Linked DNA regions of Homo sapiens: region 1 is linked to region 2. Evidence: fine-mapped expression QTL. Tissue or cell type: hypothalamus. Region 2 holds a variant in brackets; the other region holds the start of a gene. All regions are shown on one strand. Distances are between the middles of the regions.

The links. PIP is the estimated chance that this variant, and not a neighbour inherited with it, causes the effect.
Region 1: it holds the start of AACS, and the variant in region 2 is fine-mapped to the expression of AACS in hypothalamus (GTEx, PIP above 0.99). The same link has a PIP of 0.9 or more in caudate, lung and nucleus accumbens.

The regions. Positions count from the first base shown.
Region 1 is chr12:125,064,286-125,067,037 of GRCh38, forward strand. It overlaps AACS (acetoacetyl-CoA synthetase), which reads left to right and starts at 1,150. Exons shown (of 18, transcript NM_023928.5): 1 at 1,150-1,432. The coding sequence starts at 1,300. It overlaps LOC105370052 (a long non-coding RNA gene), which reads right to left. Exons shown (of 4, transcript XR_001749365.2): 3 at 718-825. RefSeq lists a silencer at 791-1,410.
Region 2 is chr12:125,141,179-125,143,930 of GRCh38, forward strand. It overlaps AACS (acetoacetyl-CoA synthetase), which reads left to right. Exons shown (of 18, transcript NM_023928.5): 18 at 914-2,138. The coding sequence ends at 1,051. Among named protein-coding and RNA genes, the nearest start is that of TMEM132B, 44 kb to the right of the region's middle. RefSeq lists an enhancer at 1,929-2,503. The variant C/T (reference allele first, on the strand shown) is at 1,329.

The DNA of each region.
Region 1 (2,752 bases), 77 kb before region 2:
TACTAAAAATACAAAATTAGCCAGGCGTGGTGGCACATGCCTGTAATCCCAGGTACTCGAGAGGCTGAGGCAGGAGAATTGCTTTAACCTGGGAGATGGAGGTTGCCGTGTGCCGAGATCTCGCAATTGCACTCCAGCCTGGGTAACAAGAGCGAAACTTCGTCTCAAAAAAACAAAACAAACAACAACAACAACAAAAAAAAAAACACGAAAAATTAGCTGGGCATGATGGCGTGTGCCTGTAATCCCAGCTACTCAGGAGGCTGAGGCAGGAGAATCGCTTGAACCTGGGAAGCAGAGGTTACAGTGAGCTGAGATTGGGACATTGCACTCCAGCCTGGGCGACTGAGTGAGACTCAAAAAAAAAAAAAAAGCTAAGGCGGGGAGGGGGCCTTCCAGGTCATAGGTAGATAAGGGACAAATGGCTGCATTCTTTTGAGTTTTCAATTAGCCTCTGCAAAGGAGGCAATCAGGTGTGCATTTAACTCAGCAGAGGGGTGACTTTGAATAGAATGGAGGCAGGTTAGCCCTAAGCAGTTCCCAGCTTTTCTTTTCCCTTTAGCTTAGTAGTGGGGCCCCAAGATTTATTTTCCTTTCACAAATGTGTATTTTGATACCCATTGGCATACTATGTATATTATTGTATTATACTATGACATTATCTTGTGTATGTACACGATGTACTTATTTGTTAATCGTCTCCCGTCTTCCTCACACCTGTACCCCTCCTCTCCTGTTGACAGAGAACAAGAATTTTGTTTTGTTCGCTGCTGTATCCGCAAAGCTCCCAAAGTCCTCCGAATGCCGCAGGCTCTCAGTAAAGACCTGCAGGAAGAAATAGCGAATGAATGATGTACACGTGTAGGAAACAGCGGGCTCGGACGCCTGGCTTCTCCGGCTGCCCTAACGCCCTCCAGCTCCAGGTGAGGTCGGGGAGCTGGGGCCAAGGCTCGTGAGCGCCCCTCACCCCCACGCCCCCCGGCCGCGGGCGCTGGAGCCGGCGGCTGCGAGCACTCCTTTGAGCGGCGCTGCACTCAGCGGAGGGTTACAGGCGGGAGGGCGGGGCCTGGAAGGGGGCGGGGATTCGAGGCGGGGCCTGCGGGGCGGGGCCTGGGCCAAGCGGCCCGCAGGAGGCGGCGGCGGCCGTTCAGTCCCTTGTTCCCCGCCGCCGCCGTCGCTGACCCAGCCCGCCAGGCGCTCCTGACCGTCGCTTCCTCCGGTCCCAGGTCCCCGGCCCTCGCCTCAGCCCCGGCCCCTGGTCCCCAGCCCTCGTCGCAGCCCCGGCCGCCCGCCGCCGCCATGTCCAAGGAGGAGCGCCCCGGTCGGGAGGAGATCCTGGAGTGCCAGGTGATGTGGGAGCCTGACAGTAAGAAGAACACGCAGATGGACCGCTTCCGGGCGGCTGTGGGCGCCGCCTGCGGCCTGGCGCTGGGTGAGAGTCGGGCGCGCGGCCGGGCCTGCGGGGGATGGGCGGGAGCCGTGCAGGGTGGTTGGGTGGTCTCCCCATGGCTAGTTTCACGCTTCTGGGGCTGGAGGAGCCACTTGATGGCGGGGAGGCCTTCTGACTGCGGGGTTCCCCCCAGTCTTGGGGAACATCACCCCTCCACAGCACCTCCTGGCACTTCCTGACTCTGCAGCGTCTCCTCTGCATGTGGGGGTCACCCTCTCCCCGGGAGTGTCACCCCTCGGGAGGGCCAGCTGCCTGTTGACCGTGTGACCCCTTGCTAGGCTTTCCTACCTGTGAGGTGCTCCCTGGAGTCTTGACCTCCGGCCTGTGGGGGCTTCCCCCGGACATAGGGCCTTTTTGACTTGCAGCTCTTCCTCTGTTTGTGGGGGTCCCTTGCCAGTCCCCAGTGCCGTGCACTCTGTCCCCCTGACCTCCCTCATCTCCAGCTGCCCCTGCTGGAGGCCAGCACCTAGCAGGATGGTCAGGCAGGAGGCCCTGTCCACGTGTCTACACTCCCAGCCCCCAAACAGAACCTAGTAAAAGACTCTCTTTCCACCCATCACCTTGAACCTCAGAAACTGCCTCTCTCGGTGCGGGTGGGGCAAAGGCTCCTTCTCCGTGGGGTAACCGCTCCGGGTGCTCTTCCTGAGCTCTAGCTGGCTTGCCCAACTACCAGCTCCACCCCTCCACCCTGCCTCCCCTAGGTATTCCTAGGGGATTTTTTTTTTTTTTTTTTGAGACAGTTTCTCTCTCGTTGCCCAGGCTGGAGTGCAATGGCGAGATCTCGGCACACTGCAACCTCCGCCTCCCGGGTTCAAGTGATTCTCCTGCCTCAGCCTCCCGAGTAGCTGGGATTACAGGCATACACCACCACGCCTGGCTAATTTTGTATTTTTAGTAGAGACGGAGTTTCTCCATGTTGGTCAGGCTGGTCTCGAACTCCTGACCTCAGGTGATCCGATCGCCTTGGCCTCCCAAAGTGCTGGGATTACAGGTGTGAGCCACGGCGCCTGGCCTCCTAGGGGATTTTTAACTCATGGTCTCCCCTCCTCACCCCCTCCGCTGGCGCAGGGACTCCCTTGTTTCTGTTGGTGGCGTCACTGTTCTTGCTCAGGCTCACAGGGATGGACACCCCAGTCACCTGTGGCACCAGAAGTCTTCTGCCACAGCCCCATGTCGCTCACATCTCCTCCTTTGCAGCCCCTTGTCAGGGGTTCTGGGGCCTCCTTTCCTCCTCACCAAACAGTGGTTGGTTTTCCTGCTTCCTGCTTTTCCATCCATTTGCATCCTGCTTGCTTTGCCAGA
Region 2 (2,752 bases):
GGTGTCTGCTGGGATTTAGGAATGGTCTATGCCTGCATTTTTATCCTGGTCAGGCTGACCCTGAACCCTGAGAGATACTCTTTTTTATATTCCCATCTGGAATATGCACTGCCGGGGTCAGTGGGGTGTCTGGAGGGCCCTCTCGAGGCCAGCTTGGATGTGACACGTGTCGTGGGTCCCAACGGGGCCCAGTAGAGTGTGCAGCGTTAGAAAAATGAACATGCTCGGCTGGGCGCGGTGGCTCACGCCTGTGATCCTAGCACTTTGGGAGGCCAAGATGGGTGGATCATGAGGTCAGGAGATCAAGACCATCCTGGCTAACATGAGACCATCCTGGTGAAACCCCATCTCTACTAAAAATACAAAAAATTAGCTGGGCGTGGTGGCAGGTGCCTATGGTCCCAGCTACTCAGGAGGCTGAGGTAGGAGAATGGTGTGAACCTGGGAGGGGGAGCTTGCAGTAAGCGGAGATTGCACCACTGCACTCCAGCCTGGGTGACAGAGTGCGACTCTGTCTCAAAAAAAAAAAAAAGAAAAAAAAAGAAAAAAAGAAAAATGAACATGCTCATGGTGACCTCTGGGCAACTTTGAAATAGCCTCAGTTTCTCAACAGCCGTGCCAGGGGGCGGGGGTGGGGTGTGGAGAGTGTTAGAGTTGAGTTTCAGCACCAGTCCTTGAAAGTGCCTTTCAGAAGAACAGGTTTTATCCCCCAAACAGAGAGACAGTGGTCAGTTCACCGTACTTCGGTGCACGTTTGCAGACCTGGTGGGAAGAGGGGCATCTTAGAGCCGAGACCCATTCACTCTTGGCACTCCAGGTGGAGCTGGGCCTTTGGGGCCTGGATATATCCAGGGCTGCGGATTTTCCCCCCTTCAGGTTTAAATGTTCCTGTTTTTCTACCTTTCCCTCGCAGTATACGCTCAACGGCAAGAAAGTGGAAGTTGCCGTCAAACAGATCATCGCTGGAAAAGCCGTGGAGCAAGGAGGTGCTTTCTCGAACCCCGAGACCCTGGATCTGTACCGGGACATCCCTGAGCTGCAGGGCTTCTGAGTCAGACTGGCTGGCGTGTCACTCAGCCGCACCCGTGTGCACTGTAACTTTTGTGTGCTCAAGAAATTATACAGAAACCTACAGCTGTTGTAAAAGGATGCTCGCACCAAGTGTTCTGTAGGCTTGGGGAGGGATCGTTTCTCTGTTTTGTTAAATCTGGTGGGTACCTGGATCTTCCACACGAGTGGGATTCTGGCCTTCAGAGACCAGGAGGGAGTGTCTGGGCCGCAGGTGTGGCACTGTGGTGAGAGTGTGTGTCTTTGCACACACAGTGCAG[C/T]GGGAACGGTGGGGCTGGCTGGTGCTGAAGACAGACACACTCCTGAGCCAAGGTCTTGTCTTCAACCTCCCCGTCCCGTTGTCCCATTTTGCTCTGTGAAGGTGCAAATCCCTTTCTTCCCTTCCCATCTCAGGCTCTCCTGTTTTCCCTCAGGGTCCAGTATGCCTTTGAGCTTTAGCTGTTAGAAAGGAACCCCCGTGACTTGACACAGCTTTCACAGCTGGCTGCTAGGACCGGCGGGCTGGGTGTTCACGTGTGTCTGTGTCATGGATGCAATGCAGGCCCTGGAGGACTGTGCGTCACCCGTCAACCAGAGCGTGCCTCCGGGCCAGCTTCCCTCCAAGGAATGAGTGGATTTCATACAGGATCTCTTTATTGCACAGACTGAATGGCTTTACATGTTTCTAATGTGAATTAGGCATGTGAAGCAGTGGGTGTCCACCCGTGTCCCTCATGGGTGAGCCCTCCAGCTGTGAGCCCAGGCAGTGTGGTCACCGAGTGAGGACCCTCCTCACCAGGAACCGCATCCCTGTGCTGCCTCCACCTGAGAGTTGCTAGGGGGTTCTTGTCGAGATCATGTCATCAGCACCCCTAAGTCAAGTCACGGGTTTCCATAGCCAGGCAGTTGGTATGTACAATTCAGTTCAGCGTATGAACTTGTATCTCTAATCTGATGTCCATTTTTATATTTTTTGAAACTGAGCACAATGAAATCCTTTCTTGAATCATTTTCCTTTTGGATTATAAAAATATGGGGGAAAGTGCTATGATGAATTTTATGCAATAAATGTATACATGTGTGCACATGCACCCATGCTGTGTGTGCAGTGTGCTGGTGTGTTTTCTCTGGAGGGGGGACCGCATCTGCGTGTGTGAGGCTGGTGGTGCTTGTGCGCCCGCCAACAGCTGTGCCCTGGAGTTGTGTGGTTCGAATTGTTGGGGGCACTTCCCAGGGCCCTGGTACTTACCCACATTCCCTTGTGACCAACGAGGAGTGCTGCTCAGTGTGAAGCCAGCACCCTGGGCCCCCTCCACCCTGAGATCCCCCAACACCCAGCGCCAGCCAGGTTTCTGGCTCCTTTCTTGTCATCGCAAGAGCTGCATGTCACTTGGGTTGTGTGTGGCTACATGCCACGGGATCCAGGCTTGGCCCAGCAGCGTTTATGGCTCTCACGTCACAGGAAGTTGGAGGCAGTCCATTCTCCCGGGGCCGGGCAGCAACTCCACAGTGCAGCAGTCCTGGCTCCTGTCTGCTGCACTCTGCTGTCCTCAGGATGTGGCAGTCATCATCTTGGCCCTGCCTGGCTGCCCCACCTCTAGTCTTTCATCCGTGCTGTAGGCAGGAAGAAGGTGGGAGTGAGAAGGGGGCTGGGTAAAGGCAAAAAGCTGCATCTCTGGAGTGTGTCCCTTTTTATCTGCAAAAT